2 separate regions of the Homo sapiens genome follow, and region 1 is linked to region 2. A link means that fine-mapping ties the variant in region 2 to the expression of a gene that starts in the linked region. Tissue or cell type: whole blood. Region 2 holds a variant in brackets; the other region holds the start of a gene. All regions are shown on one strand. Distances are from middle to middle.

Region 1 (5,370 bases), 26 kb after region 2:
GATTCCCAGTATGCCAGTCCTAATGATCAGAAAGTTTTTAGAAAACACCTTGGGTGGCCCTACTGTAGTCTGCCCCATTGGATCCTTCCCAGGAAATGGCACCAGCGTACAAGTTTTGCAGTATTCAGGGCACAAAAGATCATTTATTTTTCCAATTGTGAAGTGAACATTAGATAAAATTATTTCATTTCAGATTTTTTGAAAAGGTAAAAATAATAAGGAAAATACCCTCTCGAAAAGGCTTTTTATTTCGTTTACTGAAAGCTTCCAATAACGTGCCTAGTTTTAAACTAGGTTACTGTTATTTATCACATAATCATCCCCACAGGTTTGATCACCACTAATTTGCAGATGCGGAAACTGACAAGCTCAGAGAGGCTCTCGGTTGCCTTTTGGGAAGTGGCCAAGGCGCGATTTGAATCCAGGTCTCTTACCTCCAGTTTCTGAGACCTTTCTAGACACCAAGGTTATCTCTTCAAATACTGCTGCAAGTAAACAGCTGTGTGAGTATCTAGACTTTTGAAGTTAGCAGACTCTAGGGAATAGGTAGAATAAAATATATGGGTATGTGTTCGCGGGAGCGCTTCTGCCACGTTTTATTCCGAGGCTAGCCTGAGAGATCATGGAAAACATTGCTTCTCCAAAACCACAGCGAAAAACAAGGAAATTAACAAGGCAGAATCGCGATGCGAGACTTGACAAAGTTGTTAATAAGGCGAAGGCCCAAAGCGCTATGCCAGGGCCTGCTACTTCATTTGTTTCAGCGATTAAACCAGCACGACAGGGGGCTGGAGGCAGGTAAAAAGCAGGCTCTTGCGTGGCCCGGACAGTTGATATTCCTGGCACTCGGTGTTCGAGATGTTTCCTTACAATTGCGTGTCTGTGCGGCTCGGTCTCCATATTCCACTCATTTTTGTCTCAACATTTTGTGGTATTTTATCACAAAATACGCCCGGCAAAGCAAAGATCCCGTTCAGTCTCTTTAAACACGGCTATCTTTTCTCAGGAGGCAGCCGCCGGGGCTTCACTCCTGGGCCACCAGCGACGTCCTCCAAGCGGGTCGAGCGGAGGCGCGTTCGCGACCCAGGGGCAGCGTGCCGAGCCCGGGCGTGGGGGGGCGTGGCCTTTCCACTCGGCGACCCCCGGCCACCGCCCACCCCGCGCGTGGGGGCGTGCGCGACTGCGGGGCGCGGAGAGGGGTGACCTCGGACTACCCTAGGCGCCCGCAGCACGCTCTGTACACAGACGCGAGGCGCTGTCCTGAGGTGACACCGGCTGCACGGCACAAGCAGCAGGCGCCGCCGATCAACTAGTTCGCACCGAGGATTCCTCTTGGTGCGTGGCCCAGTTTTCCTTAGGACGGGCTCCAACCCCTCCCTGACACCGCCCCCCTCACCGCCACGCTCCGAGGCCTTCCCCGGGGAAGCCTCGCGTCCCTCCCCCGCGGCTCCGGGCCGCACGCGCGCGATTCCTCGATTCCACAGGCGGTTCGCGCCGCGGGTGGGGGCGGGGCGCGCGGGGAGGGGGCTGGCGGCCGCCAGGGGAGGGGGGCCGGGGCCCGGGGGGCGGAGGAGGGCCGGCGTGGGGAGTTCCTCGCTCGCGGACCACACGCTCCGCGGGCCAATCCCGAGCCAGCCTCTAGCAGTGTCGCACGCGGGACACGTCCAAGCGTTTGTTGGCACGGCCAGTGAGGGGGAGGGGGCGAGGAGGAGGGAGGGGAGTTGAGTGACAGGCTTTGCGGGGCAGGCTGGGAATTGTAGTTCCCAGCTTCCGTGGCCATAGCCATTTTGTAGTCGGGGGACTACAACTTCCAGAAGATCAAGGGGACCATTCTAAGGTGCCCCGGGAATAGGCGGCTCTCCCCGGGGCCGGGCGTCCTGGGGCACTCCTACCCAGCAGCCCGGCTGCAGGTAGACGCGAAGGCAGTGGCGGGGGCTGGCGTGGGGCGGCCGTGGGGTGAGCGGCAGGCAGGGGAAAGGGGGTGAGGTGGAGCGACGGAGCGTGCCATGCATTGAGCTAGGGAGCCTCTCTCAATTCCACGCCTGGGCTCGGCGTGGGAGCGACGCCCGAGGGCTTGCCTGGGAGGGGTTCGTCGAGGTCGCTCGGGTGTCTGGTTGGCCAGGCTGCGGGGGTGCCCTGGACTGGGCCAGGGGCGGTCGGCACCAGGCTAAGCGGGCGCCTGGCGGCTGAGCGGTGGGAGTTTTCGGCTGGCGCCCGGCGGGGAATTATCCGAGGAGCCCTAACTTGTATAAAAGCAGAGTCCATTTAAAGTTGGGCTGGATAGCCTCTCTCTCATTGGTTAGGGGGCTTGGAAAAAAGAGACTCGGCGAGCCCTCGCTGTGGTGCTGCCGCCGCCGCCGCCGCCGCCGCTGGAGTTGACTCTTCTGCTCGCACTGCTGCTGCAGCACAAACGTGACTTCCAACATTTTTTATTTATCTTTCCCTTTTCTTTTCCAAGATGTAACTACGGATCAGACACTAAGGACCTTCACGTTTCGCTGATGTAGTTTTTGGAGGAAAAAGGGGGGGGAGTGAAGGGCGTCGGTTTTTTTTTGTGTGTGTGTGTATGTGTTTCGGGGGAAATTTTCCATTATGAGTGTTTTACTAAAGTGAATTTTTTTTTGTTTGCTTCGTTCGTCTTTGGCTCTTTTTTTTTCCTTCCCAATTTCGGATTTATTTCAAGGCGAATCTGGCTTTGGGGGAAGAGGAAGAAAAGTCGGATTACAAGATCAACCACCACCAACAACAATAAAAACCACCAGGATATTTTTTTGCAAATTTCTGACGGCTTTAAATTCATGAAGCAATTGTCCCCTTTTGCAATCAGCATTTGGATCTCAGAATGAGCAAGGAAAGACCCAAGAGGAATATCATTCAGAAGAAATACGTAAGTGCTCCTAACAACACATCCTTTGACTTGCAGTTTTAAGCAATGGCTGTGAATGTCAAGTTTATAGATAATTCTGCCTCTGAAGGGTTTTAAACACAGCGTCCGATAAGGCTGTTTCTTTTTTTTCTGAAAGAGGGCTTTTCAAGCAAAGTGGTGTCTGCCTAGTTTGGTTGAAAAAACAGACTGGTGTAGAGATACCTCAAGTGAATAAATTGACCTCGAATGACACAACCATAATCTACTTTTAGATGAAAGGCAAGGGATTTTGGTGGAGCTTGAGGTGGGGGGTGGCTGCGGTAATGTAACTAAACTGCATTCTCAAGCGGATTTGGCCCCGTATTGCACTTTGCATGCAAATGAGCCTGTGTTATTATTATTAATGTTATTTGGAAAAATCGTGTAACGCATGTGTGTTGGAAGCCCTTTAAGTTGCGATCGAGGGTCCGATTATGGCGATCTTCTCTTTGCACTGGCACATCAAATTTAATGTCTGTGGTCGTTTTGGCTTATCTGGTTTGCAACATAAACCAGTTGGGAATCATGTTACAGCGAATGCATTTGTTGGGATTGACTTTAATAATGAGGCTGGTTTTGTTTAAAAAATTCATGGTTTCCAGTTGTAGGGGAAAAGGACACACACTATGGCTAATGTTTTTAAGTGTGTACGTGAATGCATATGTAAGTAACTACAAATAATTTCTCCCTGTTAACTGGGCTTCTGAAATTGGGTGATTATTCCTAGATTTAAATGGCTTGGAATAGTTAAATTTGTTTTGTGCATAGTACAGCTACGTTTTGATTGGCATGGGGAGTGTTTTTGTTTTGTGTGTGGTGGCTTTTTTTTTTTTTTAAGTTTGAGGGGAGGGAGGAAAGGGGGACCGAGGGATTAACCAAATATGCACTCGAGTGATCTGTGATTAGCTGCATGCTTTAAATTAAATAACTCTTTTTTTTTTTCAAAAAAGGCCAAATGAACATACCTTAGGAATAATGCAACGTAAGAGGAAAGTTTATTTAAGTTGGGTAGACAAATTGGTGTTAATATTTTCCCTTTTTGATCATTGTGGTGTGTGTAATGAGAGATGACCTTCGGGGCACTGGTTTTGTAAAAAAATATATTTAATGGAAAAGCTGAATGCCTCTTCAAGAGAGCTGATCCTTATCTAGACACGTCAACTTCAACTATGAAAGAAATGCAAGGTTAAATAATCAAGCCCAACTTAGAAAGCTGTTCCATAAAGAATTTAAGAATTAAAATACATCCGCATTGCAGAGGGCTGGGTAGAATGCAAAGGACTAGTTTAAACTCGGGCTGTAGAAACTGCACTGAGGCAACCTTGTCTTGGAGCGTGGACGCCTTCCCGGGGCACGTCCGTTTCGGATGCAGCCACAAAGCAAATGGGGTAGAACTTGGACGAGAACCGCACCCCGCCTCCCATTCCGGACCTCGTTGAGGTGGAGAGCAGCGTGGGGTGGGTTTTCTTTCTTATTGCGGGCGTTCAGCGGATCGTGTCTCCGAGTCCGGGCGTCCGGCTGCAAGCCCGTGGCTGGCGGCGGCTGCGGGAGGCACGGCACGAGTTAATGCACCGGGAGCAGAGCCGGTGTTCCCGACGTCCTCGAGCCGGCTGCGAAAGGGACGGCCCGCGGGGGTCGCGGCAGGCTGGGCCGGGGCTGGGCGGGCGGGCGCGCGCGCGCGGCCTATAGGGGGCATACTCCGGGCTCTAGGCGGGCGCGCGAGGCGGGCACCGGTCTACCCGGGCCGGCTTGCAGGCGGGCAGGAGGGCGGGTGGGGCGCGGGGGTGGCGCGGCCTGCGGGGCGCGGGGAGGGGAGAGCGCGCGGGGAGGGGGTGGGAGCGGGGGCGGGGGCGTGGGCGTGCCGGGGAGGGGGCGCGCGGCGCACAGCTGCAGCGGGCGCCCCCCACCGCGCACACGGCCGAGCATGGCGGCGGCGGCCCGGCCGGCTTCCCGCGGCCCTGCCTGCGGGCTCCGACGCAGTCTCGAGAGCAACAGGTTAAGCCGGCGAGACGTCAGCGCGCCCCCTCTCCGCCCCCCGGTTCTTCCCCCGCCGCGCGCCGGCGCCCCAGCCCTTCTTCCCTCCCTCCGCCCCCCGCGGCGCTCGGTTCCCCGACGCTCCCGGCCGCACTCTGTTGTCATTGTGACGTCACAAAGGGACGGGCTCGGGTGGAACCTTCCCCTCCTCCTCCGTGACGTCAAAAGTCGGGCGGGAGGCTCCAGGCGCGGCGGGGCGGCGGGGGGAGGAGGGAGCTGGGCGGGGGCGGGGGCTGCCGCAGAGCCGGGCTGCGGCGTGGGAGGAGGAAGAGGAGGAAGATGCGCTCGGCCTCTGCCTTCCGCTCCGGAGCGTCGCGCTTCCCACCAGGTGAGGGCCGGGGAGCCGTAGGTCCCCAAAGGAGTGCCACTGGACCCTGTTCTGATGCCACTTGGGAAGCGGGGAGCGGGGAGGAGGCGCCTCCTTTCTGCAG
Region 2 (5,370 bases):
TGGGTTTCTGAATTTCCAAAGTTAAAACTATAACCTCAGACAATGTATCACTTCAAGGTTTCATTTTATCCCAAGTCATATCATCATGAACACCAATTATTGTCCCTTTGGAGACAGCTGAGATAGGAGAAATTTAAGAATCAGAGCATATGAAACAAAGCTTTTAGAAGATAACATCTGCTGGGCAAGATCAGGGATGATATAAGGGAAGAATAAAAATTATGAGTCTTTCTCTAACAGTCCAAGCATGAAAAAATAAAGATAAAAATAAGTAAAAATTTTAAAAAATGATCAAGTCCAAAACGAATATTCCATAGGTTTTTGGGTTTTTTTTGAGACAGTCTCACTCTGTCGCTCAGGCTGGAGTGCAATGGCAGGATCTCCGGCTCACGGCAACCTCCACCTCCCGGGTTCAAGCAATTCTCCCAGCCTCAGCCTCCCAAGTAGCAGGGATTATAGGCACCTGCCAGCACGCCTGGCTAATTTTTGTATTTTTAGTAGAGACAGGGTTTCCCTATGTTGGCCAGGCCGGTCTCGAACGCCTGACCTCAAATGATCCACCCACCTTGGGCCTCCCAAAGTGCTGGGATTACCGGCATGAGCCACTGTGCCAGGCCCCTCATTAAGTCTTGAGTAGGAATAAACCTATCCCAGCTCTGAGGCATAGACCTTAATTGGCATATATAAATCAGTTTAAAGTTACCTACTCCTCTGCCGCAGTAATTGGGTGATGTATGGATAATAATCTAGACCCAAACCAGTTAACTCGTAGTATTTGCTTAGAGTAGTTCAGGGATGAGCCAATCACTGTCAAAGTACAAACTGGCCTGGTGCGGTGGCTCAAGCCTGTAATCCCAGCACTTTGCGGGGCCGAGGGGGCGGATCACCTGAGGTCGGGAATTCGAAACCAGCCTGACCAACATGGAGAAACCTGACTCTACTAAAAATACAAAATTAGCCGGGTGCGGTGGTGCATGCCTGTAATCCCGCTACTCAGGAGGCTAAAGCAGGAAAATTGCTTGAACCGGGGAAGCGGAGGTTGCGGTGAGCCGAGATCGCGCCGTTGTACTCCAGCCTGGGCAACAACAGTGAAACTCCGCCTTGAAAAAAAAAGAAAGAAAGAAAGTACAAACTGTTGGATGATTATGGAGAGCAGTGCTTTCTCCCCTTTCAGAGTAAGCCCTGGTTGCTGTAGGCGACAATCTTGCAGAGGAAGGAAGCCTGCTGAAGACAGGTGAACCACAGGTGGTGGGGGCTGGATCACAGGTGTGAGCCACCACACCTGGCCTATTCCATAGTTCTAACCTTCATTCAGTTGGCTAGTCATTCATTTATCAAATATTAAATAGCACATGCTGGCCAGGCGCAGTGGCTCTCACGCCTGTAATCCCAGCACTTTGGGATGCTGAGGTGGGTGGATCACTTGAGGTCAGGAGTCTGAAACTGGCCTAACCAACATGGTGAAACCCAATCTCTACTAAAAATACAAAATTAGCTGGGCGTGGTGGCACATTCCTGTAATCCCAGTTACTCAGGAGACTGAAGCTGGAGAATCACTTGAACCCAGGAGGCAGAGTTTGCAGTGAGCCGAGATCTCGCCATTGCACTCCACCCTGGGCGACAAGAGCAAAACTCCGTCTCAAAAAACAAAAACAAAAACAAGACTAGGGCATGTTAGGCTGGGTGCGGTGGCTCATGCCTGTAATCTCAGCACTTTCAGAGGCCGAGGTGGGTGATCATCTGAGGTCAGGAGTTCGAGACCAGCCTGACCAACATGGAGATACCCTGTCTCTATTAAAAATACAGGCCGGGCGCGGTGGCTCACGCCTGTAATTCCAGCACTTTGGGAGGCCAAGGTGGGCGGATCATGAGGTCAGGAGATCGAGTACATCCTGGCTAACATGGTGAAACCCCGTCTCTACTAAAAATACAAAAAATTAGCCGGGCGAGGTGGCAGGCACCTGTAGTCCCAGCTGCTCCAGAGGCTGAGGCAGGAGAATGGCGTAACCCAGGAGGTGGAGCTTGCGGTGAGCTGAGATGGCGCAACTGCACTCCAGCCTGGGTGACAGAGCAAGACTCCTTCTCAAAACAAAAACAAAAACAAAAAATTAGCTGGGCATGGTAGCTCATGCCTGTAGTTTTGGCTACTCGAGAAGCTGAGACAGGAGAATTGCTTGAACCTGGGAGGCGGAAGTTGCAGTGAGCTGAGATTGCGCCACTGTACTCCAGCCTGGGAA[G/T]TTGAGACTCTGTCTCAAAAAAAAAAATTAAATTAAAAAAAAAAAAAAAAAAAACTAGGGCATGTTTCAGCTATCTATAGCTGTGTAACAAACCATGTCAAAATGATGCCAAAATCTAGTGGTTTAAACACTTGACAGAGATGGGTCTTCCTTCCTCCAGATGGTGCTCGCTGGAGTGGCTTGACAGGCCTTGGAGAATCTGAAGTCACTGGCAGAATGTTCACTATGACTTCATTCACTTCTCTGATGCCTTAGGTGGCTGCAATGTGTGAAGGCTGGCTGGTCCCCTGCATCTTCACCTGATCTCTTACCATCCAGTAATCTGGCTCAGAGCCTCTTTTTTTTTTTTTTTTTGAGACAGGGTCTTGCTCTGTTGCCCAGGCTAGAGTGCAATGGCATGATCTTGGCTCACTGTAGCCTCAAACTCCTAGGCTCAAGCAATCCTTCTGCTTTAGCCTTCCAAGTAGCATACAGGTATGCACCACTACACCTGGCTATCAGACGACTTTACATGGCAGCTGATGGACAAGAGAAGGAAAAGGAAGTTGGGCTTCTTTTTTTTTTTTTTTTTTTTTTTGAGATAGAGTCTCGCTCTGTTGCCCAGGCTGGAGTGCAGTGGTGCCATCTCGGCTCACTGCAACCTCTGCCTTCCAGGTTCAAGCGATTCTCCTGCCTCAGCCTCCTGAGTAGCTGGGATTACAGGTGCCCACCACCACGCACAGCTAATTTTTTTGTATTTTTAGTAGAGACGGGGGGTTTTACCATGTTGGCCAGGCTGGTTTTGAACTCCTGACCTCAAGTGATCCACCCACCTGGGCCTCCCAAAGTGCTGGGATTACAAGCATGAGCCACCATGCCTGGCGAAGCTGGGCTCTTAACACCTGGGTTTAGAAGTCCCAGAATATTACCCTCACCACACTCTGTTGGTAAAAGCAATTTACAGACCCAGACTCAAGAGGAGGGGATCCTGCACCAGAGCTCCCCACTCTAAAAAAAAAAGGCGGGGGAGAGGAAATGGATTCCATCCGTTCCTGTTCACAGAAAGAATAATTTGTTGGTGGCTGTCCTCACAGATGATCCACCGAAGTGCTTAGCTAGGATTGCATGGTGGGAAGACCAATCTTTTCCCTGGGGAGGATGGATTGTAGCCAGGCAAGAGGCAGAAAGACCAGTTTGGAGGGTGTTGCAGTGGGACAAGTAATAGTTGAAAGTCTAGGCTAATGAAGGTCTAGGTTAAAGAAACAGAAGTGGATGGGTTTGAAAGGTGCTTTATAAAAAGAAAAATCGCCGGGCGTGGTGGCTCACGCCTGTAATCCCAGCACTTTGGGAGGCCGAGGCAGGCGGATCACAAGGTCAGAAGGTTGAGACCATCCTGGCTAACACGGTGAAACCCCATCTCTAATAAAAATACAAAAAATTAGCCGGGCGTGGTGGTAGGTGCCTGTAGTCCCAGCTACTCAGGAGGCTGAGGCAGGAGAATGGCGTGCACCCGGGAGGTGGAGCTCGCAGTGAGCCAAGATCCCACCACTGCACTCCAGCCTGGGCGACAAAGCGAGACTCTGTCTCAAAAAAAAATAAAAAAATAAAAAATAAATAAATAAAATAAAATAAATAAGAAGAATCAGGTGACTGATTGGCTGTTGGTGCTAGGGAGAATATGGGGAGGGAAGAGCCAAGAGGGACACCAGTGTTCCTACTTTCATTATTATTATTATTTTATATAAAGATGGGGCTTTGCTACATTGCCCAGGCTGGTCTTGAATTCCTGGACTTAAGCGATCCTCCTGTCTTGGCCTCCCAAAGTGCTAGGATTACAAATGTGAGCCACCAAATTCAACCCAGGGTTCCTACTTGATTTCAGAGCAGCTGCCCTTTGTTCTGTCAAATCCCTACATAACAAAGTCATTTTTATTCCTAGATGAATGTTATTTTTCAGCAATGCTTCAACTCTGCTAAGCAAGTTCTTTAGGTGAGGTTAGCTTGACCCCAAGAAATCCAAGTTAAATTTATTGTGCTTAAAAAGGGTCAGTCAGGGAGACTCTACATCAGTCAGGGAGACTGCAGAGTCAAGGAGGCCACGTGGCTGGTGGCTTTAAAAAGTTTGCTGAGAGCTGAAGAGGTCAGCTGGCCCCATTCCAACCTGCTCTACTCATGGAGAGGAGTCCCATGGAGAGGAGTCAGGCCAGGCTGTTCTGCCCTGTCTTGACCCTGCACTGCAGGGCTGTCTCCACTCCGGAGATCAGGAAAGTCAGACAGACCTATGTTCTCTCTGACAGGTAGCCACAGCCACCAGCTGGAGTAGGACTTAAAGTGACTGAAAGACTAAGAGGCTGCAGAAACCTTAGTGCCTGTCCCCAGAGAGCAGCATCTGTTTAGAAAGTTTTTTCTTTCAGAAGCTGAGCCGGGATGGTTCGGGATGAGAGAGCCGTGATTCTAGTCAGACGGGTCAATCAGGAAGCCCTGATTCTTGGAGTAAGAACTCTGTGGAAAAACAAAAGTGCAGCCAAGCAAGTGAGGTTCCTGTCTCCCCTCACCTGCAGCCAGTGATTGCAAGAATGGAAGGCTGGGTGGGACAGCCCCGGGGAGCATCTCTTCACCACTGATGCTTGTCCCTTTAAAATCTGGAGCAAGGCCGGGCGCGGCGGCTCACGCCTGTAATCCCAGCACTTTGGGAGGCCGAAGCGGGTGGATCACGAGGTCAGGAGATCGAGACCATCCTGGCTAACACGGTGAAACCCCGTCTCCACTAAAAATACAAAAAATTCTCCGGGCGTGGTGGCGGTCGCCTGTAGTCCCAGCTACTCCGGAGGCTGAGGCAGGAGAATGGCGTGAGCCCGGGAGGCGGAGCTTGCAGTGAGCAGAGATCGCGCCACTGCACTCCAGCCTGGGCGACAGAGCGAGACTCCATCTCAAAAAAAAAAAAAAAAAAAAAAAGTTAAAAAAAAAATCTGGAAAAACTCAGCTGTTTATTGATCCCTCAGGCTCTGGGGTAATTTCCAGTCGTACAAATAGATGCACCTAGATCTTGGGAAAGACCCACAACTGGGCTGAGGTGTTTTTGTAGTTGTTGGTTGGTTGGTTGTTTTTTTGAGATGGAGTTTCGCTCTTGTTGCCCAGGCTGGAGTGCAATAGC

What was found. PIP is the estimated chance that this variant, and not a neighbour inherited with it, causes the effect.
Region 1: JARID2 starts here. The variant in region 2 is fine-mapped to the expression of JARID2 in whole blood (TOPMed, PIP above 0.99).

The regions. Positions count from the first base shown.
Region 1 is chr6:15,243,698-15,249,067 of GRCh38, forward strand. It overlaps JARID2 (jumonji and AT-rich interaction domain containing 2), which reads left to right and starts at 2,372. Exons shown (of 18, transcript NM_004973.4): 1 at 2,372-2,887. The coding sequence starts at 2,843. JARID2-DT (JARID2 divergent transcript) reads right to left here and starts at 1,677. Exons shown (of 1, transcript NR_187237.1): 1 at 226-1,677. JARID2-AS1 (JARID2 antisense RNA 1) reads right to left here and starts at 4,999. Exons shown (of 2, transcript NR_120502.1): 1 at 4,813-4,999; 2 at 4,118-4,447. RefSeq lists enhancers at 487-1,000, 2,190-2,239, 2,350-2,449 and silencers at 1,000-1,309, 1,320-1,579, 4,565-4,624, 4,745-5,224.
Region 2 is chr6:15,217,634-15,223,003 of GRCh38, forward strand. No RefSeq gene overlaps it. Among named protein-coding and RNA genes, the nearest start is that of JARID2-DT, 25 kb to the right of the region's middle. The variant G/T (reference allele first, on the strand shown) is at 2,238.